Regions from separate parts of the Homo sapiens genome. Here region 2 is linked to region 1. Evidence: fine-mapped expression QTL. A gene starts in region 1. The other region holds a variant in brackets. All regions are shown on one strand. Distances are from middle to middle.

The links. PIP is the estimated chance that this variant, and not a neighbour inherited with it, causes the effect. A credible set is the group of variants that fine-mapping cannot tell apart.
Region 2: its variant is the best candidate, but not a certain one, in a credible set for the expression of NDST1 in visceral fat (GTEx, PIP 0.55).

What each region holds. Positions count from the first base shown.
Region 1 is chr5:150,505,679-150,510,893 of GRCh38, reverse strand. NDST1 (N-deacetylase and N-sulfotransferase 1) reads right to left here and starts at 2,763. Exons shown (of 15, transcript NM_001543.5): 1 at 2,668-2,763. RefSeq lists an enhancer at 206-779.
Region 2 is chr5:150,551,837-150,557,051 of GRCh38, reverse strand. NDST1 (N-deacetylase and N-sulfotransferase 1) reads right to left here. Exons shown (of 15, transcript NM_001543.5): 14 at 5,197-5,215; 15 at 1-3,839. The coding sequence ends at 3,720. Among named protein-coding and RNA genes, the nearest start is that of NDST1, 46 kb to the right of the region's middle. The variant C/T (reference allele first, on the strand shown) is at 2,501.

The DNA of each region.
Region 1 (5,215 bases):
CTGTCTGTGTTTGTTTTCATCCATTTTATATGTGTTTTAGTATCACAAGCAGCCTCTAGTGATCTTTCTTGGAAGTAGCTCACAGATCATCCGTCAATCAACAAGGAAACAAAGCATTAAGCACTACTGGTTCACTCCCTGGTTCTCAACTTGTGAATCTGTTCTGGGTTCCCTGGCAGGGAAGGCCCAACAGAAAACCTCAGGAACTTAGACCTCACTTGTTGAGAATGTGTCCTTCTTCCAACAGGGCCTGAGTTGCGAGTTTACCTTTGTACCAGCTCTGAAAAAAAGGGCTTACCGAGCAAACATACCAGACAGCCTGGGGGTGGGGCTGTGTGGGGAACACGGCAGGTCACCTGCCACCCTCCCGTCCCAAGGACGGGACAGTCCTGACAGTCCCACTGAGGCTCTTCACGCACACCAAGGCTGTCAGGTCCATCACACAGAATGTTATGCAGTGGCCACAAATCTTCCCAAAATGGGGCTCTCTGCCCACCCTATCCCCAAATCTGCCTATGACAGAGTCAAATCCATCCAGAACTATTTTTTCCTTAGGCTCAGATCACAGACACTCAAAAGGAACAAAGCAGCATATCCCAACACATATCATAACCTCCCTTACTGGCGGCCAACGTTAAGCTCCTGCGAACATGTGGGGCTGTGCCAGGAGCCTTACCTGCTCCATCACGCTCAATCCTAACACCCTGAAAGAGGTGTCACTGCTATGAGCACTTTACAGACAAGGAAATGGAGGCTCAGAGAGGGTAAGCAACCGCTCGAAGTCACACAGCTGGGCAGAGGTGGAGCTAGGATGCCCCTCCCAGCCCACCCCACAGCCCCTGTTCGTTACCCTTCTGCAGTCCTACTTTCCACACCACTCCCAAGCCAGGTCTGCAGCCCAGGAGAGAGGCTTCCTGGAGGTGACCAGGCCCAGGGCTGCTGACCCAGCTTCTCTAGCTGAGCTTCAGCCTCCTGGGAAAGCCTGCACTGCAGAGAGGTGCACCATGGAACCCAGCAAGGCAGGACTTCAGCCAGAGGGTCCTCACGCCCCCATCAGACACCCCAATATAAGAAAGGGGGATGGCGGCTCGGGGCAGTGGCCCCTGCCTGTAATCCCAGCACTTTGGGAGGCTGAGGCGGGTAGATCACAAGGTCCTGAGATCGAGACCATCCTGGCTAACACGGTGAAACCCCATCTCTACTAACAATACAAAATTAGCCAGGTGTGTGGCACATGCCTGTAATCCCAGCAACTCCAGAGGCTGAGGCAGGAGAATCGCTTGAACCTGGGAGGCGGAGATTACAGTGAGCCGAGATGGCGCCATTGCACTCTAGCCTGAGCGAAACTCCATCTCAAAAAAAATAAAGAAAGGGGGGCCACCTCCTGCCCCAGGCAGAGGCCTCATGCTAAGGAAGAGGCAGGAGCGAGGGTCAGAAGCAGGAGATCTCAGCTAGCAGGGCACCGCAAAGGACAATGGTGAGCACCTCGCCTCACGGCCTGGCATGTGCCAGGCGCTCTACCAAGCACTTCCCAACCCTCACTTCATTTATTTGTCATTTATGCCCAGTGAAGTAAAAACAATTTTATCACACCCTGAGCTTCTCCCCTATCTGCCTCCCCTGCAGAGGAGCTGGGAAATGTGGGTCACCACTAGCCCCCACCCTCCCGCATGCCCGACTCCAGGCCTCAGATACACCCTGAGAGATTCCAAGGCACAGGCAGACTCAGGGGCCTCCATCTCAAGGATGCAGAAGCCAAAATCCATGCGGGCCTGGAAACCACAACAGCCTCCCAGTCCTTCCCTCCCAGTCATCCCCTTCCTCTCATCAGGGGATGAGAGGTCATTGTCCCCTGAATGAGCCAAGCTTCCCCAGCTTGTAAGGTCAGGCAGAATGCTGGCAGGAAGACAGAGGCAGGGGGTGCCACAGCCTCCATTGCCGCCTGTGAGTCTCTGGGCAAGTCCCTTCCCTTCTCTGAGCCTCAGTTTCTGCAACTGCAGTGAGGGGTATGGACTAGAGGAGAAGTCTGTGACCTTCTGGGGGTTATAGAACCCTTTGAGAATCTAATGATGGCTATTAGCAGATTCTCTCCCCAGACACACAAATTCAGAGTGGTTGTGACTGGCCCCCATCAAAAGCCAAGTTAAGAACATGGAAATTCTCTAGGGGCCCCTCTGGCTTTGACAAGCCATGGCTCTCACAGTCTAGACAGGACCAAAGCCACAAACACAACATCTGAGAGCCCTGGGATCTCACCATTTCAGCTTCCCCCGTGGCCCTGAAATAAATCTTTAAACTCTTGGACCTGCTGGCTTCAGGTGGATTTGTGGACATGCCTAGCTGTCTGGAGAAGCCACAGGAGAAACTGAGCCCTTCCTTCCCATCCCTCAGCCTCCTCCTCCTTCTCCTCCATCAGGAATCTGCCAGGTCAGCCTAGACCTCTCCCTGGGGCAGTTCCGGGAGCTGCTTCTGATCTGGAATGAAGGCAGGACCCAGTGCCAGGCTCAAGTGCCAGCCTGTACCCCCAGATCCCTCCTGGGGACACACACACACACACACACACACACACACTCAGATGGACCTGGAAGGACTGGACAGGGCAGGGGGCCAGGGACAGTGGTCAGAGTGGACAGGAGCCAGCGAGACAATGACCAGACCCAGACCCACCGGAGCTCCAGGCAGTGGCGTGAGGTTCCTCTTCACTTCGCCACGCCCTCTCGAATGTCCTCTCCTTAACACGGCTGCACCTAATCCCAGGGCCAGGAAAAATGGCATTACTGTTGGCCCAGTCCCCTCCCCAGGAGAAAGGGAAGGCAGAAGCAAGGGAGGGAGGTGGCCCTAGAGCACCCTGCGCCACCAACCACGTTCCTAGAAACCTCCACGCCCCTTCATGCCACCTCCCTTGTCAAGGCCTCCAGCCCCTACCTCCTTAACCTCAGAAAGAGGATGTCCTCCTCCGATTCTGCCCCGTGCCCAGGGAACCACTGGCACCTCGCCTGCCTCACCCAAGCCCTGCCTGGAGGAGCCTTCCACGGGAAAGGAAAAAGCATGTCCCTGACCCTCATGCTAGTGGGTCTTCTGACCCTCTCAAGAGAGGTAGCAGCCAACAGCAGGAGGAGCACTCACTGGCAATAAGGATAACTGGGTCCTGGTTCCAGCCCTGGCCCTTCCCCCTCCAGACCTCAGTTTCCCCACCTGTCCTGAGAAGAAGAGGAAGGACTGGTATGCCCAGCTGGAGGGAAAAGTGTCTATGATGCTGGCTTTTGGCCCCTGGCCCCACCCAGCTCAGCTGCCAGGCCCTTCCCTGTGCCCCACCCTGCAGAGAAGGAAGAAAGGTGACCGGCAAAGGTGTGGAGGGTGTAAGAATCCATGCTGGAGCCTCAAAGTGCTAGAGCTGAAAAGGGTCTTACAAAGACGAGACCCAGAGAAGAGAAGCAACTTGGCCACGGTCACACAGAACACTGGAAAAGGGCCAGGCTGGCCAGGGCTTGCTTCTTGACAGCAAATGCTTAAAAGCACCCAGCTGAAAAGGTATTTGCCTTCTTAGAGGATGCCAAGGAGAGCACAAGGCAACCTGACAACAGTAGAACTGCAGGCTCTGAGAGCTGCAGTTAAAAAAAAAAAAAAGGTATGTTTATACGTGGGGCTTAAGGATGGAGGTTGGGCTGGCTTTCCAGGCTCCTCATGTCACACCACGTGGGTGGCCAAGGGTCCTGCCAGCCACAGGGAAATCCTAGGAGCCCCTTCCAGGGATTAGCAGCTTTGGCCACCTCTCAAGAAGTCACCTAAGGCCCAGCAGGCAGGCCCAGCAGTGGTGACAGAAAGAATGGCTCAGATGGACACTCCAAGACTAGCCCACTCTGGAAGATGCCAGAGCCTTGGAGAGACTGAAAATCCCCCAAGCCCCGTGGCCAGTGAGGACGGAAGCCAGGTGGGCTAGGGATAACACAGAGGAAGGGAAAAGCTTTGAGCCATCTGGAGCCACAGAAGCCCCCTAATCTCCTAGAGGCCTGGTGGGTACAACACAGGGCCTGCTGAGACCAAGGAGGCTTCACCGAGGGCCCACATGAAAGCAGCCAGTCCCTGTAGACTTGCTGGGGCTTGTCATCACGACAAAAGCTGGCCACCAACACGCCTTGGGGTGTTAAGGGACTCAAAGTACTTACATGGAGGCGCAGCTGGCAGGGGGAGGGGGCAGAAGGTGGGGAGAGGTGGGGGCAAGTGGGCCCGGCTTTCTCTAGGACACAGACAACAGCTAGAGAACAGAAACGTGGAGCAAAAAGCACTGGGTGACCTACTTCACAGAGGCTCCTTTTAAAGAGGAATAGGAGGCCTCAGCGAGACTCTAAAAAGTACCTCGCAGGGGTCCAGAACAGTTCATGGGGCCAGGAGACCAGGGTTCCAGTCCTAGATCAGGAACTCACCCAGGACTAGGCTCAGGTGAGGCCCGCGAGGAGCCTTTTAGAAGGTGCTCACTGCCAGGTGCAGTGGCTCACGCCTGTCATCCCAACACTTTGGGAGCTCAAGGCAGGTTGACCCAGGAGTTTGAGACCAGGAGTTCAACACCAGCCTGGGCAACATGGCAAAACCCCTTCTCTACAAAAAAAAATTACAAAAATTAGACAGCGTAGTGGCGTGTGCCTATAGTCAGTTATATGGGAGGGCTGAGGTGCGAGGATCACCTGAGCCCAGGAGGTTGAGGCTACAGTAAGCCCAGATTGCACCACTGCACTCCAACCTGTGCGACACAGCTAGACCCTCTCTCAAAAACAAAGGTTCTTATTCTCCACAATGTGCAAGCACACAGCGGGCACCTCCTGAGACGCTGCACTTAGATGCCTCACTTGCCTCATCCTAGGCCCGGCCTTCTTACACAACCTGCCTGTGACCTCAGGCAAGTACCACTCCTTTCTCGGCCTCAGTTTGGTCACATAAAACAGAATCATGAAGCCAGGCATGGTGACACGAGCCTGTAGTCCCAGCTATTCAGGAGGCTGAGGTAGGAGGATTGCTGGAAGCCCGGGCATTCAAGGCCGCAGTGAGCTACAACTGCACTATGGCACTGCAGCCTGGGAGATACAGCAAGACCCCATCTCTAAAAAAAATAAAATTTTAAAAAACGAGTTAATTTAAAAAATTGAATCATGCCATATGATTCCATAGACCCTCCTAAATCTAAGCTGGGTTATTCTGTAGGGAGCATAACCGACCTCTG
Region 2 (5,215 bases), 46 kb before region 1:
CCTTGAAAGTACAGGGGATAGAAGAAGTGGTTATGCGACACCATGAGCAAACAATCTGACAAATTCAGAATGTGGGGCTTCAAAAAGACAGCAGGCCTAGGGCCTCAAAAACAATGTCATTTAAAAACTCAAAGTGAGCTGAGGGAAGACCTTTCAGCATTCAAAGAGGTTTTAAAAACATAGTTAGAAAATGCAATGTGTGCACCGTGACTGGATGCTGATTCCAAAACCAGACACATAAGTTACCTGGGAGACAATTGGGGGGATTTGAATACAGATTAGATAGCAGACATCGCTGGGAAATGACTTCTCGTCTTGGCTGTGATACTGGGCCAATGTGTAGGACAATGCCCTAACTCTTAGGAGATGCAGGCTGAAGCTTTCAGGGATCAAGTTTCATGATGTTTGCAATGTACTTTTAAATTAGGACAGAGAAAACATATACATACACAGAGAGAGAAAAAGAATGTGGCAAAATGTTAATAATTTTAGATCTAGATGCTGGGGAGTGGGCATTCATAATTAAATGTTTGGTAAAACATTGTTGTATTTGCTTTTCCCACTAACAAGCCCATGGGCACAGCTCTGTGCTGGGACCACCAACCTCTGCAGGTCAGCGCAGCAGCTCTCCTCTGCTGGGAACAGATGGCTTCCTTAGCTGGGCCCAGAAGCACTGACTGCTCATCAGGGGGGCTCAGAAAAGGCCCATTTTTAAACTTCAGACTCATCCTCCAAGCAGCAGGATGCTCCACCACAGAAGGCTCTGGAACTCTGAATGACTGAGGCAGCTGCAGGTGACACTCGCACCTGCACCCACCCTGGGGCAAAGGCTCATGGAGGGGACCACAGAATAGACGATGGAGCCACCTGAACAATTTCAGTTATTTCTCTCTCCTTTTTTTGGCCAAATGCTTAGAGTGAATTAGTGGACATTGAAGACTGGCCTCGCTGGCCCACTCATCTGTGGCTTCTCTTCTCGGGAGGGGGTGTCCTTGTACCCATTAGCTAACAGCCCCCCAGGCAGCTTATCTGCCTCTCCTTCTACCCCCCATACCTGCAAGTCCCGGCAGTGTCTGGACCTAGTGGGTCTTCAAGAAAGGTCTGTTAGTGGGAGGAGAAGTGGCAGCAGTGACCTAGGCAGACAGACTTGGAACATGTGGCAGGTCCAGTCTCCAGGCTTGCAGAAGGGTCCAGGCAAAAATCCAGAAGATCTCTGCTGTCACAGGATTTCCAACCGCCTGCTCCTTCCCATAGCCAGAGGCAGAGAGAAGTGGAGCTCCTGCCCTAGGCCAGCCCACCTCTCCTGCCTTCCATGCTCTGCGAGAGAGGCCTCCAGGCCTAGAGGGTAGATTTCCGAACCTGGGAGCTGTAAGATCCTCACCCATCCCGCAGCCCAGTCCCCTCACTGACGGATGGGACTCTGGAAGTCACTGCCCCTCTCTATAAGCCCCTGGCTCCATGGCGTGGGCATGTCTTCATGAGCACACAAGCAGACATGCCACCCTGTCCTCAGACCCTTTGCTGCTCATCCTGCTGGCCCAACGATGCCCAAGTTCCCAGGCTTGCAGGCCCCATTGAGAGGCATGATGGGGACACTGCTGTGTACACAGTGAAACCACCTGCAGCTGGTCCCACTGAGTGTCCAACTTTCTTCATCCCAGCAGAGAACTGGAGAAAAGGGAATCAGCTCAGAACAGACCCAGGCCCCCACAGGCTGGGGAAGGACCCCTCGAGGGAGAACACGACAGGGATGCAAACGCAGACCTCGGAATGAGAAGGCTCAAAGGCACCCTGGCTGGGAAGGAGTGGTTTGTCCCCATATCCTGGAATGACCATGCTGTGACGGAGGAAGGGACAGGAACCTGGCACAGAGTAGGGTCCCAAGGATGGGCTCAGAGGCAGTGTGGCATTGGAAGAGGAGCACGATGGGACTTGGAACCGGGAGCCTCGGGTTCAACGCTCAGCCCTGCTCCCAGCTGGCTCCATGACGTCGGCCAAGCAGGCCACCTCCCCTTTCTGGACCTGTTTCATACCCGTCAAAGGACCTTCCAGCCCCAAGATGCTAGAGTCTTCTGAACAAGACAAGCCTCTCCAGAAAGTATTTCCTGGGGTTCAGAGGGAAGCAGAATTTGGCAGTTGGAGGGGGCCAGGGAGAGGCACCCCAGCCTCAGTCACTTCACATTGTTAAATGGGGTGGGGTAGGAGCAGACCCCAACCAGAAATCAGCCCAGAGATCCCACTGTCTACAAGGGCCTGGAGACAGTTCTGTGGGCCTTGGTGGGCATCCCAGCTCTCAGGGCAGCTCCCAGCCTAGCACCATGTGAGGGAGAGTGGGTGGGGCAGCTTTTGACCCCAGCTCTCCTAGCCCAGCCCTGGCTGTTTCCTTTGGCCAAAATCCCCTCAGGGTCACTGGACTTCACGCAGCCCGATGTCCTGGAGAGAGCTGGTCTTCCCTGCGCATCTCACCACCTCTGTTCACCTGGGGTAGCCCCAGAGCAGC[C/T]ACGGCACTGGGGAGGGCCCCTTCCTAAGGTCTGCTCAGCCCCAGGCCACTGAGGACACAGCCTCCCTCCCTGCCACCTCATCTCTAGCTCTAAGACAGGGTGACCCCTGAGACTGGGGCTTACCACCATTTTGTAGGACTGAATTAAAAACGAACCCAACCAAAAAAAATAGAATATATATATATACACATTATATATATATATATATATATATAACACAGTGCGACCCCAGCACCCAGGGTATAAACTCTGGCACCAAGAAAAAAAAAAACAAAATATTAAAATATTTTAGCTTCTTAGTATTTGGGAGGTTAAGGGGGTCTCTGAGAGCCCTCGGCCACAGGTGGCTAAGCAAAGCCGTGGCTGGCAGTCTCACCAGCTCGCCCATGTCTGCCTGGGCCTGAGGCTGGGAGGGTGTGGGGACCGTGTCTGTACATGGGAACATGTTACTGGCAGACCCCTGGCCTGCCTCAGTCTTTTACCACAGGAAACACCACACATCATATCCCAGGGGGAAGAAAGGGGTGCAGGTGGGGCCCGGAGAACTGGGCCCGATGGCAAGGCAGTGCCCCAAGGCCCTGCGGGAAGCCTTGAGGATGGAGTGGATACTGTAGGAACCAGAAATTCTTCCCCAGAACGGGAGGGTGAGATGTGAAGGTAGGAACCAGATGTGGAGGCTGGGAGTCCTCTTGAGGGGGCCACCCTCCCATCCAGCCTAGGACTGACTCCGGGGACCCAGCTGGCCCCTTGGAAGAGCCTGGCTCGAAACAGGGAAATGTCCAGTCTGTCTCCCCCGGCCAGGCTCTCCTCCCCTACAGCCTGGAGGACAGGGACATATGGCAGCGAATACTGAGGGGCGCCCTGCGGAAGCAGGGAGTGATGGGTGACGAGAGGGGACAGTCGGCGGAACACAGTGAGGGACAGAAAAGAGTCTCGTGGACTCCCTCCTACCAGGAAGCGGCCTCCCCAGGAGCAGCTGGGAACGGAATGGACCTCTGCTGGCGAGGGAGGTCCCTTAGGCCGCAGACCCAGCGGTGGGTGCTCCGAGGTGCTTGCAGATCCGCCTGGGTGCTCCCCCAGCCCCACCAGACCTCCACAGAGTATTGCTCATAAGTGCGCAGCTGCCCTGGTCCAGCTTCCCACTCTGCAGGTCTGGCTCAGCGTGTGGTGGGATGTCCCAGCTTTCACAAACGTTCAGTCTGGCTGTGGTGGCCACGGCTACCTGGTGTTCTGGAGGTCCTCTCGTAGCCAAGTGGGAAGTGTCTGGCCCATCTTATACAGCAGCTTGGAGAGCTCGATGTTGTGGTCCCGGTAATAGTCCTTCAGGAAGGCTCGGGACTGTAACGGGAAGGAAAGCTCAGACCTTGTGTACTGACTTAAGAGTGACCTCCTCTAAAAATCGCCATGCTCGGCCGGGCACGGTGGCTCATGCCTGTAATCCCAGCACTTTGGGAGGCCGAGGCATGTGGATCACCTGAGGTCAGGAGTTCAAGACCAGCCTGGCCAACATGGGAAAACCCTACTAAAAATACAAAAATTAGCGGGGTGAGGTGGTGGGCGCCAGTAATCCCAGCTACTCGGGAGTCTGAGGCAAGAGAATCTTTTGAACCCGGAAAGCGGAGGTTGCAGTGAGCCAAGATCACGCGATTGCACTCCAGCCTGGGTGACAAAAGCGAAACTCCGTCTCAAAAGAAAACAAAAAAACAAAAAACCCACCATGCTGCTGGCACCACCCCCCATACACCTCTTATTTATCCACAATCTCCTTCTAAATGGTAGCCTCCAATAGTGAACTCCCAGTTGGCAGGAGCATCAAAATATAGCTCACTAAGTCAAAATTCTTCTGATAGGGAGAGGAGAGAGAATTAATAATCAAAACCCAAGGCGGGCAGGGCCAGGGCCAGGCACGGTGGTTCACACCTATAATACCAGCACTATGGCAGGCTGAGGCGGGAAGATCGATTGAGCCCAGGGGGTCGAGGCTACTGTGAGCCATGATCATGCCACTGCACTCCAGCCTAGGCAACAGAACGAGACCCTGTCTCAAAAACAAAACAAAACAAAACAAAACAAAAACAGAAGCAAGTAGGAAAAGGAGGAAGTAACAAGACCCCCAGTCTGTGACCCTTTTTCTATATATTTTTAAAATTTCTTTTTTCCCCCTATGGTTTTACACATGCTGTTCTTACCTACCCTCCCATTCCATATGTCCAAATCCTACAAAATGGATCTCATCCTTCTAGGCGCAACTCCAGAGACCCCCATCCCTCCTTTAAGGAGCCTTTTTTACCCCTCTCAGGTTCAAGTGACATCCCCTTGTTCTGAATTCCCATAGCACTTGTGTGCCCTCTCTGACTGCGCGCAGCACTCTCTGCCTGTATTCTACTTAGTGGTGTTGGGACTCATACCCCTCCAAGACCAGGAGTTCCTTGAAGGCAGAGAACATGTCTGGCTCATCCTCAAAACCCCACAGCACTCAGCCCTTAGTAGAAGGTAACCAACACTTGTTTGACGAAATCAGGTCTGACCCACCATGTCCCAGCCCCCATTTTCCTCCTCTTACAAATACTGTCCAAGAAATGCTAAGGCCATGAACATGCTGAGTGCATGGTAAAGGAAAGAGAATCCCCCTCAACTCCATACAGGGACCCCTTACCCTTATGCAGGTGCTACAGGTAGTGTGTCCACCACTTACATCCAAGTCCATCTCGGGA